Linked DNA regions of Homo sapiens. The protein of the gene in region 2 interacts with the protein of the main gene of each other region in a pairwise test. Each region holds a gene or a part of one and is shown on either strand. Other genes may lie near its edges.

Region 1 (3,827 bases), on a different chromosome or scaffold from region 2:
TGCTTTCTTTAGGTTAAGTTACAACAGCTGGAAGCTTCCTATGCATGCCAAGAGAAGGAGCTGCTCAAGGTAACAGCAGGAACTTCAATGTGACTTCTCCCCAAAAAGGGAAATGTGATCTTTGGTCAGGCAATCTATTTCTCAAGTGATTGATTTACATTAAGGTTCCAGATCCAAGACCATGATGGGGCTAGGGAGGGGTAAAGAAAAGGAAGATAAGCACAATCCCTGAGGTTGCTTTCTCTTCAAACATTTTTTTACAGAATACACTCTACAGTTTGTATCTCGCAAATATTAGTTATCTATCTATTCCTCTCCCAACTGCCCCCAAATTCCACCTTTGACCAATAACTCCCATTTAGCTTTTTTACCCTAAAAAAAGGAAATACATTTATCTGTACAGCAAAAAAGAAAACATATTTAGAACAATTAGAAAACCACATTTAGGACCTGGGACCCAAGAGAAAACAAGTATGCTTGTGTTCTTATAGCAATTTACCGAAATATATTTACAACTAAATTTTGATTTCCTAGGTAATGAAGGAGTATGCATTTGTGACCCAGCTCTGTGAAGATCAAGCCCTCTACATAAAGGTAGAGCTTCTTGGTAAAGGGATAGCAAAGGGTTTATTAAGGTACAGGATGAAATAGAACAAGGATTTTCAAAGACTACTGTCCAGAGCAATTTCAACAGTTCAAGGTGGCACTACTAGGATACTTTAAGGTCATCAGCACCCCACCTCACTATCAATATCACTCTATTTGTCTTTGTCTCCCTGGGAATTCCTGCCCTGCTCTCCCACTCTCTGTGCTGTTAAGTTAATAATTCACACTTCTGCTATTTATAATGTCAATGATGCCCAGAAACCTGTCCAGTGGTAAGGCATAGTGAGAGATCAAGAGTAGTAGGGGGGTGAGTTTTATGAAAGCAGAGAAAGTGGCAGTGGGAATACCAAGCATTCATGGTATCATGTAATAACAAGTGCTTATTATGCTTAGAAAAATTGTAAACCTTCTAAGTAGTAACTGTGGCTTTCTTTGTTTCTCTTTGAAGAAGTACCAGGAAACGTTGAAGAAAATAGAAGAAGAACTAGAGGCTCTGTTCCTTGAGAGAGAAGTGTGAGCTTTGGCAAAGGAACATCCTGGTTTTGGTAGAAACTCCATCTCAGCCTGAGTCAGAGCAAACAGTTCTCAGACCAATTTCTATTTGGAATTGAATGAGTCCCGACGCCACATATCTTTGCCCTCTGTTAGTGATCTGGTTGACCCCAGTAGATCACACCAACTTAAAACTTCCAGTCATTCTCCCATCCTTCTAAAAAGACCACAGAAACACATCTCCCTTCGTAATGTTATCACATTATCACATTATTATTCGGGTTGATATTAAGAGTAAAAACATGTACTTTAGAAAGAGTTGGTGGTCAGTCACCTTGATAAGTAGGGTATTCCTTATATATCACAGAAAGGCCTTTTCATTAATACCATCCTCACTTCCCCCAAATATATGGACACCCAACCATAAGGGATAGGCATGAAACTAATCTCTAGACTCATACTACAGCTACCACATTATATAAATCAGAACTGTACACTGTATTGAACTACGAACATTTAAAATTAGAGATGGGAAAGCACTCCTCAAAGTACAATGAGTTTGTCAAGAGTCTAAATGGTGAGAAATCCAAACCAAAAACCTCATCTCCATTTCTTGACCCCCTCTGTAAGTTAAATCTTAATGCAGTCAAGAAGTATTTCTATTTATGAAATATTTTTAAATCCTTAGATCAAGAACAAGAGATCAAAACTGCATATAGCCTCTCTCTATATATATATAGTCCAGGGTCCTAGGACTTGTAGGTCCTTGCCCCTAAAGGACACCTTCAAGTCACTCAAGATCCCTGCTGAACATTGGTTTATGGCTTAACTGTTAAGCCAAGATTCTAGAAAAGGTTGCCCAGTAGAATTTTCTGTGCTAGTTAGTAGGTAAAACTAACTACATATGGCAATTGAGTACATAAAAGATGTACTCAACTGAGGAAATTAATTTAACTTTAATTAATTTAAATAGCTATAGGTAGACAGTAGTTACAATATTGGACAGTACAGATTTAGAATATAAAGCTTTTTTAAAATAACCATAGTGTAGTATGAATATTTCAGTGCACTTTGTTCAATTTCTGTCCTGGCTGTTATCTTCATAGATCAAAACTCGTGAGCATGAACCCTGTGGAAAAAGAGCATACCAGCCAAAATAATGAGGTAAACACTCCATTCTCTCTTCAGCTCCTCACAGTGTCATTGCCTTTCAAAGCCATCTCCAGCAAACTATAAGGCACCAAATATATACCCAATCTTGCCATGCGCATTTTCCAAGAACAGTACCAGCTATAATTACAGAGCATTCCAACCCTAAACAAACAAACTAGACTCTAAGGAACAATCTACTTTCTTCTCATTCAGCCATACAAATAACAGGCTCTCAAAAAACTAGCCGAAGACCTAAGAGAACTCAGAATGGAGGCAAGAAGCAACCTTAATTGAGGGTATGCTCTATAGAAAGAGGCCAATATAGGGCACATACACCACCTCTTCCATCTCCTACAATCACAGTACTCTTTCCTGATGATCTTGACATGGTTCCTAATCTCTCACAACACAGAGCACCCACCATCTGTCATCATCTAGTCAGAATTGGCCTGTGAGTTAAAACATAGAACGCTATTGCTTCTTTGTGACAGAGTTTCAGTGTCTGTTCATATTTAATATAGCAAAGCCACCAGCACACATGTAAAGGTCTGAAGGAAAAGAACAATTTCATACAGAGCACCAATCCTCTTGGCCTGCTTGATGTCTTGTGGCAGCAAGGATAAAAGGTTAAAGTTAAACTTTGGTTGGGCTTTAATTTTGTAATTTATATTGGCTTTAGAGTCCAGGTTGACAAACATCAGAAATTACAGATAGTCAAGATAAATACTTAGAAAAGAGAACTAAACACTTCCTTAAAAGCAAATATCAAATATTGGCCATTGTGTTTGGGTCATCCAAATGTTTGGATATATGTTAGGCCATGTCCATGGTTCTTAAGAGTACTGAACAAGTCATTCTGGCCCCGAAGCTTGCATATTCTGCTTAGTAAACAAAATCCCTGAAATTAACTCGACCCACTTCTGTAGAACCAAGTTTTTGACATCTCCAATGTGTCCTACCATCTCTCCCCACAGCTCATCAAAATATTCCTTCTAACTATGTGTCAGAGGAAAAAATTAAAGTTGTCTACATCAAGCTCATCAGGGTCCCATGATGGTTCAATGACCTAGTGATGTCTGAGCAACTTTGGAGACAGGATGCCTGAGAACTGACTGTTTGGCAGGCCATGTAATCTTACTCAAACTATAGATCAAAATTTGTAATCCTAAAAGTTTCTTTCTAATTCAAATTCTGTAAGCCTCTTTTCCACAGCTCTAATTTTTTTTAGTAGAAAGATGAAGTCTCACTATGTTGTTCAGGCTGGTCTTTAACTCCTGGGCTCAAGGGTTCCTCCCACCTCAACCTCCCAAGTAGCTAGGACTACAGGCACCCACCACCATGCCTGGCTGGCTCTAAAATGTGATCATAATTCCTCTTTTTATCTCACAAGGAAGGTTAAAGGACAATGAAATAACTGAGAAAATATTTTGAAACCAGAATGCCACAGAAATACAGGACATAGCCTCATCTTTAGATTTTTTTTTCTTCAACTTTTAAGTTCAGGGGTACATGTGCAGGATGTGCAGGTTTGTTACATAGGTAAACGTGTGCCATGGTGGTTTGCTGCACAGATCATC
Region 2 (4,541 bases):
AGATGAGAAAGAGAAACAATTATTGTTATGTGTTCATGCTTTGCTGCTGTTGGTTATGTAAGGGCTATTTTTACAAAGATGGGCACTGCAACATATCATATAATAGTGAGAATGTGAATCCAGCCTTAATATCCAGTGACAGGGATTGGTTAAATAGATTACGGAACAACCAAACAATAGAATAGTATACAATTGTAAAAACAAACTAACCAATAAACACTGAAGAGATCTAAATGAACTCATGAGAAAGTTTTCTAAACAATAAATTTTTCCAGTGAGTAAGACACAAATCTGAATATACAGTATGGTATAAGTGCTTGTAATAAAAGCATTATATATATTTATGTAGCAATATATATTTCAAAAAGTAGATTCCAAAGAGTAAAAGGTGGGGGTTTTGAGAAGGATAGAAGGGAGGAAAGATGAGTTAGGCTCTTACTATTTAGCTCTGTACATTTCGGTTCAGTGAGATTAGTTTTTGTTAGCTTAAGCATGTATGACTTTAAATGTAAGTATACTAAAAATGAGATACCATTTTACAACTGAAAGTTCAAGGACCACTTAGCAGGAATACTGGACCTGAAAGCCTGATGTGAGGCAGGACTGAGCAAAGCATGTTCAGGTGAAAACTTTAAATGGGAGTCTGAGTTTGAGGAAAGAAAATAGAGAGAGCCAAAGGGGGAACATGGTTCTATGTCCTCATTGTCAACCCTACTTAAGACATGTAATTTGAAGATAGTGATTCTCAAAATCAGAATTGCCTTCAAGAGCTTCTGTAAAACACAGGGTCACAGGGTCTTGATACTCTATACAAGAATATCTGAATAACAATTTTTAGAAATGTGTTCCAGGACAGGGCAATATTAACAGGTTTTCAGAGGATTCATTGGCACAATGAAGTTGGAGAACTGTAGCAGTTGGAGCCTTTGATGGATAATAAACTGGAATCGTACCTGTCATTGAATCCTAGATTACTGAGGAGACTGCCCCTGTGGAGGTCCTTGTGGGCGGCCCCCTTGGGGAGGTGGTCCCTGGGGCTTTCCAGGAGGAGGTGGGGGAGGACCTTGCTGATGGCCTCCCTGTTGGGGTGGTCCTTGTGGCCTTCCTCGAGGAGGACGGGGATGGCCTCCCTGTTGGGGTGGTCCTTGTGGCCTTCCTTGAGGAGGAGGGGGATGGCCTCCCTGTTGGGGTGGTCCTTGTGGCTTTCCCTGAGGAGGTGGTGGACCTTGTTGCTGCTGGCCTCCTTGTTGGGGTGGTCCTTGTGGCTTTCCCTGAGGAGGTGGTGGACCTTGTTGCTGCTGGCCTCCTTGTTGGGGTGGTCCCTGCTGAGGGCCATCATCCTGGTTCCCATCACCAGCAGAGGGTTGAGATTGCTGTCCTCCCAAAGGTGGTCCCTGACGCTCCTCATCTAGGAACTGCTCAGAGTCTCCTCCATCTGTGTGAGTTGAAACAAGAAGAGCTGAGCTCATGCTGGAAAACCCTCCTGTCTTCATACCTCTCTGTCTTCACCACACGGCCGGCCCCTCTCTGCCTGACCTGCCTCTCAACTCCCAACCTCCCCCCTTCCCAAGGCTTCCTAATTAGAACTCCTCTTAATCCACATAAGGGTGATGAAAAATTGAATTTCTTTACTCATGGTCCCCAGAATCAAGGTTGGGAGAAAACTGTTTGTATCTTTGGGGCATTGGTATTAGCCAATTCCTGACAAGAAAATGGTGATAAGAAGACACTGGAGAACTCATCAATTTTTCAGGGAAAAATGGAGACAGAGTTTACTGAGAATTTATTGGGATTTACCTGATATTACGAGGGGAACATCTTCCTGGCTGACATCTAGAAAAGAAGTACAGGATGATGGGAAAAGTTACTTCCTGAATCATTCAAGGCTCATAGTGTTCTACGAGGATAAAGGACCTCTGATCACACCCTGTGCATCCCCTTTGTGATCTCATCAGCCACTCTCTGATGCTACTGGAAGTGGAAGAAGATGTAAGGGAAAGCAGTATTGTTACTACACTGAGCGTCAACCAGGAACTCAACATAGAAGGGCCCCTGTTTGTCCTCTTTTGATTCCCCAAGCCTTGATGAGGAATGAAGATACAATAGGTCTTCTGATCCTCGGCATGAAAATTCTGCAGTCCCATCTGTTTTCTCATCCTCCTCTCTTCCCTCCACTTTCCTCCTCTATAGCATTTGCCTGTAAACCCTTAGCGCTTATTTAGTTAAACTGCTCTGAGTATTTCAATGACATATTTGGGGATTCTTCTGCCCTCTTTCATCTGTAAATATGTTGTTTATGTTTGCAAGCCTTCTCAACAGGAGCCACCAGACATAGCCACTTGGATATAATCTTACGCATGCCATTCCCAGCACATTGAAATACTACATTCAGGAGACAGAAAAATGACAATGTTTCACTCTGGTTATTCTCTAACTCTATGTAGACAGAGACAAGTGTTTACCCAATTCTCTGCCTCGGCAGTAGCTCTGACATGTGTTTATCTCCTTCATTAATGCTCATCCACTGTACAGCAAGGCCACCATCATCCCTGTCTACTGGGATCAGTACAGGATCTTCACAGCTGTACTTCCCTGAATCTGTCTTGCATTCTCCACATCCTTCACAGCAGTCCCATGTCTCTATATAATGCAAATCTCACTCTCTCACACCCCTAGTACGAATTCTTTATTGGATTCTATTTGTGCAACAAATAAACTATGAGGCCTTGATGAGGAATGGAGGTACAATAGATCTTCTGATCCTCAGCATGAGAACTCTGCAGTCCCATCTGTTTTCTCATCCTCCTCTCTTCCCTCCACTTTCCTCCTCTATAGCATTTGCCTGTAAACCCCAATCAGAGTCACAATATCTTCCCCCAATTCATCTTACCTTCATTTAAATCCTGAGCTGAGCTGAAGGCCAGCAGGGCCACTGACAGCAGAATCAGAAGCATCTTGCAGGAGGCTCTGGTGTCACTCCCAACTTTGTGCTGGGAGAAACGTGTCAGCTCCCTTTATAAAGACAAGCAGGACAATGGTGCATTTGAGCTCCCTACCAGGTGGGCCTCCTCGCCTCAGAGACTGGCTTCTGCTTTGCTTACTTCAGGTCAAGTGTATCCCTCATTTCTTTTGGGACTCTAGCTCAGCAGGAAGGGTTGGGTAGGATATTGTTTGTGTCTAATTCCTAAAAGGCACAACTATGACTTGGACAAATGTTTTGACGGAACTGTGTCCAAGCAGTCGGCACAGTGTCAGGATTGAACTTTAGACATCTTTTGGTTTTCAATCTGTTTGGAAAGACTGCTATTCTGCTTTTCACTGTGCTTTTCATTTCTGTGTATGTGAGTTTGTGTGGGTGTGTCGGGGGGTGGACACTGATCCTACAGCTAACAGTGAAGATGGTCAATATCTCTGACTGTTTTGATAGCCTCTTTCCATCTCTCATGATGTGTGTGCGTGGATATTTTCACATTTAGCTAAATTTTTCATGTAACAGAGATGGTCTTGCTTATCTGTGAGATGTGTGAGGACAGCACACTCCCAGGCACACATATATGAGAGAAAGGTGCTGGCAGCCTGCTCAGGCTACAAGAATTGTCCAAACTTCTGTGAATCTCACTACACTCAGGCAAGCCTTGGTGCTATACAACACAGGCAAGCTAAAATATTTGTATTTTAAAAATATCTTTAGGGTTTATTAAAGCAAAACTGAACTCAGAAACCACCAAGGAATTTCTAGACCTGAACAAACTGAATATATGGTTCCCTAAGTGAGCCACACGATGTCATATAGCTAAGACCTCCACTTTCTCCAGAATATTCCATAGAATTCATCCTCTACTTTATTTCTTCTAATAAATATTGTAATTGTCATCACTGATAATTAAATGGCCACAATTATACATTCATCTAAGATAATTTGTAATACCTGTCCAAGCCTCAATTGCCTTGATTGGTCTTCTGCTTTTACTCAGTAATTATGTCACCTGTTTCATCAGAGTGTTCTTTCTCACCAAGGATTTTTATCTGTAATATTCCAATACTCATTCTTTCTCATTCTTTTTCTCGCACTTATTTGTTGAAATTTTGTATTCTGAGTCTACCTTGCCATGTTTACTTTTCGTCCTATATCTTTTTTTTTCTCCCTACAAAGGTGTCCTTTATTTATCCTTCTAAGTAAAGGTGTGTGGTACTCCTCACTACCTTTACTTTCATTTTTGTCTGTATAATTTGACAATAAAAAATTAAGTTTCCAAAAAGCCCTGTCAGGGTCCTGGTTTGGTAGCTCTCTCCTCAGCTGCTGATTGCTCCAAAAATTAAGTTTCCAAAAAGCCCTGTCAGAGTCCTGGTTTTGTCGCTCTCTCCTCAGCTGCTGATTGCTCTGTGATACCTAGAAATTCCCTGCTCATCAATTCATAAAATATACTACTCAGAATCACCAGCTGCACTTTCCATTTCAGACCTTGAGTAGGTCTTGTGTAATTTTTCACTTTTTGTGCATGGTTAGTCTTTATTTGAGGATAGCTTGGTTGGAGGCATGG

The links. The genes of interacting proteins can lie anywhere in the genome.
Region 1: the proteins of PRH1 (region 2) and TMCO5A interact in a two-hybrid assay, tested with the Homo sapiens proteins (one large-scale study listed by BioGRID).

The regions. Positions count from the first base shown.
Region 1 is NC_000015.10:37,941,137-37,944,963, forward strand, and holds part of TMCO5A (transmembrane and coiled-coil domain-containing protein 5A), read left to right. Parts: intron 1-12; coding exon 13-69; intron 70-534; coding exon 535-594; intron 595-1,054; coding exon 1,055-1,119; exon of another isoform or gene 1,120-1,151; intron 1,152-2,204; coding exon 2,205-2,262; intron 2,263-3,827.
Region 2 is NC_000012.12:10,881,264-10,885,804, forward strand, and holds the start of PRH1 (salivary acidic proline-rich phosphoprotein 1/2 isoform a preproprotein), read right to left. Parts: upstream 2,993-4,541; 5' UTR 2,955-2,992; coding exon 2,891-2,954; intron 1,834-2,890; coding exon 1,798-1,833; intron 1,436-1,797; coding exon 972-1,435; 3' UTR 954-971; intron 1-953. UniProt on the Homo sapiens protein: PRP's act as highly potent inhibitors of crystal growth of calcium phosphates. They provide a protective and reparative environment for dental enamel which is important for the integrity of the teeth.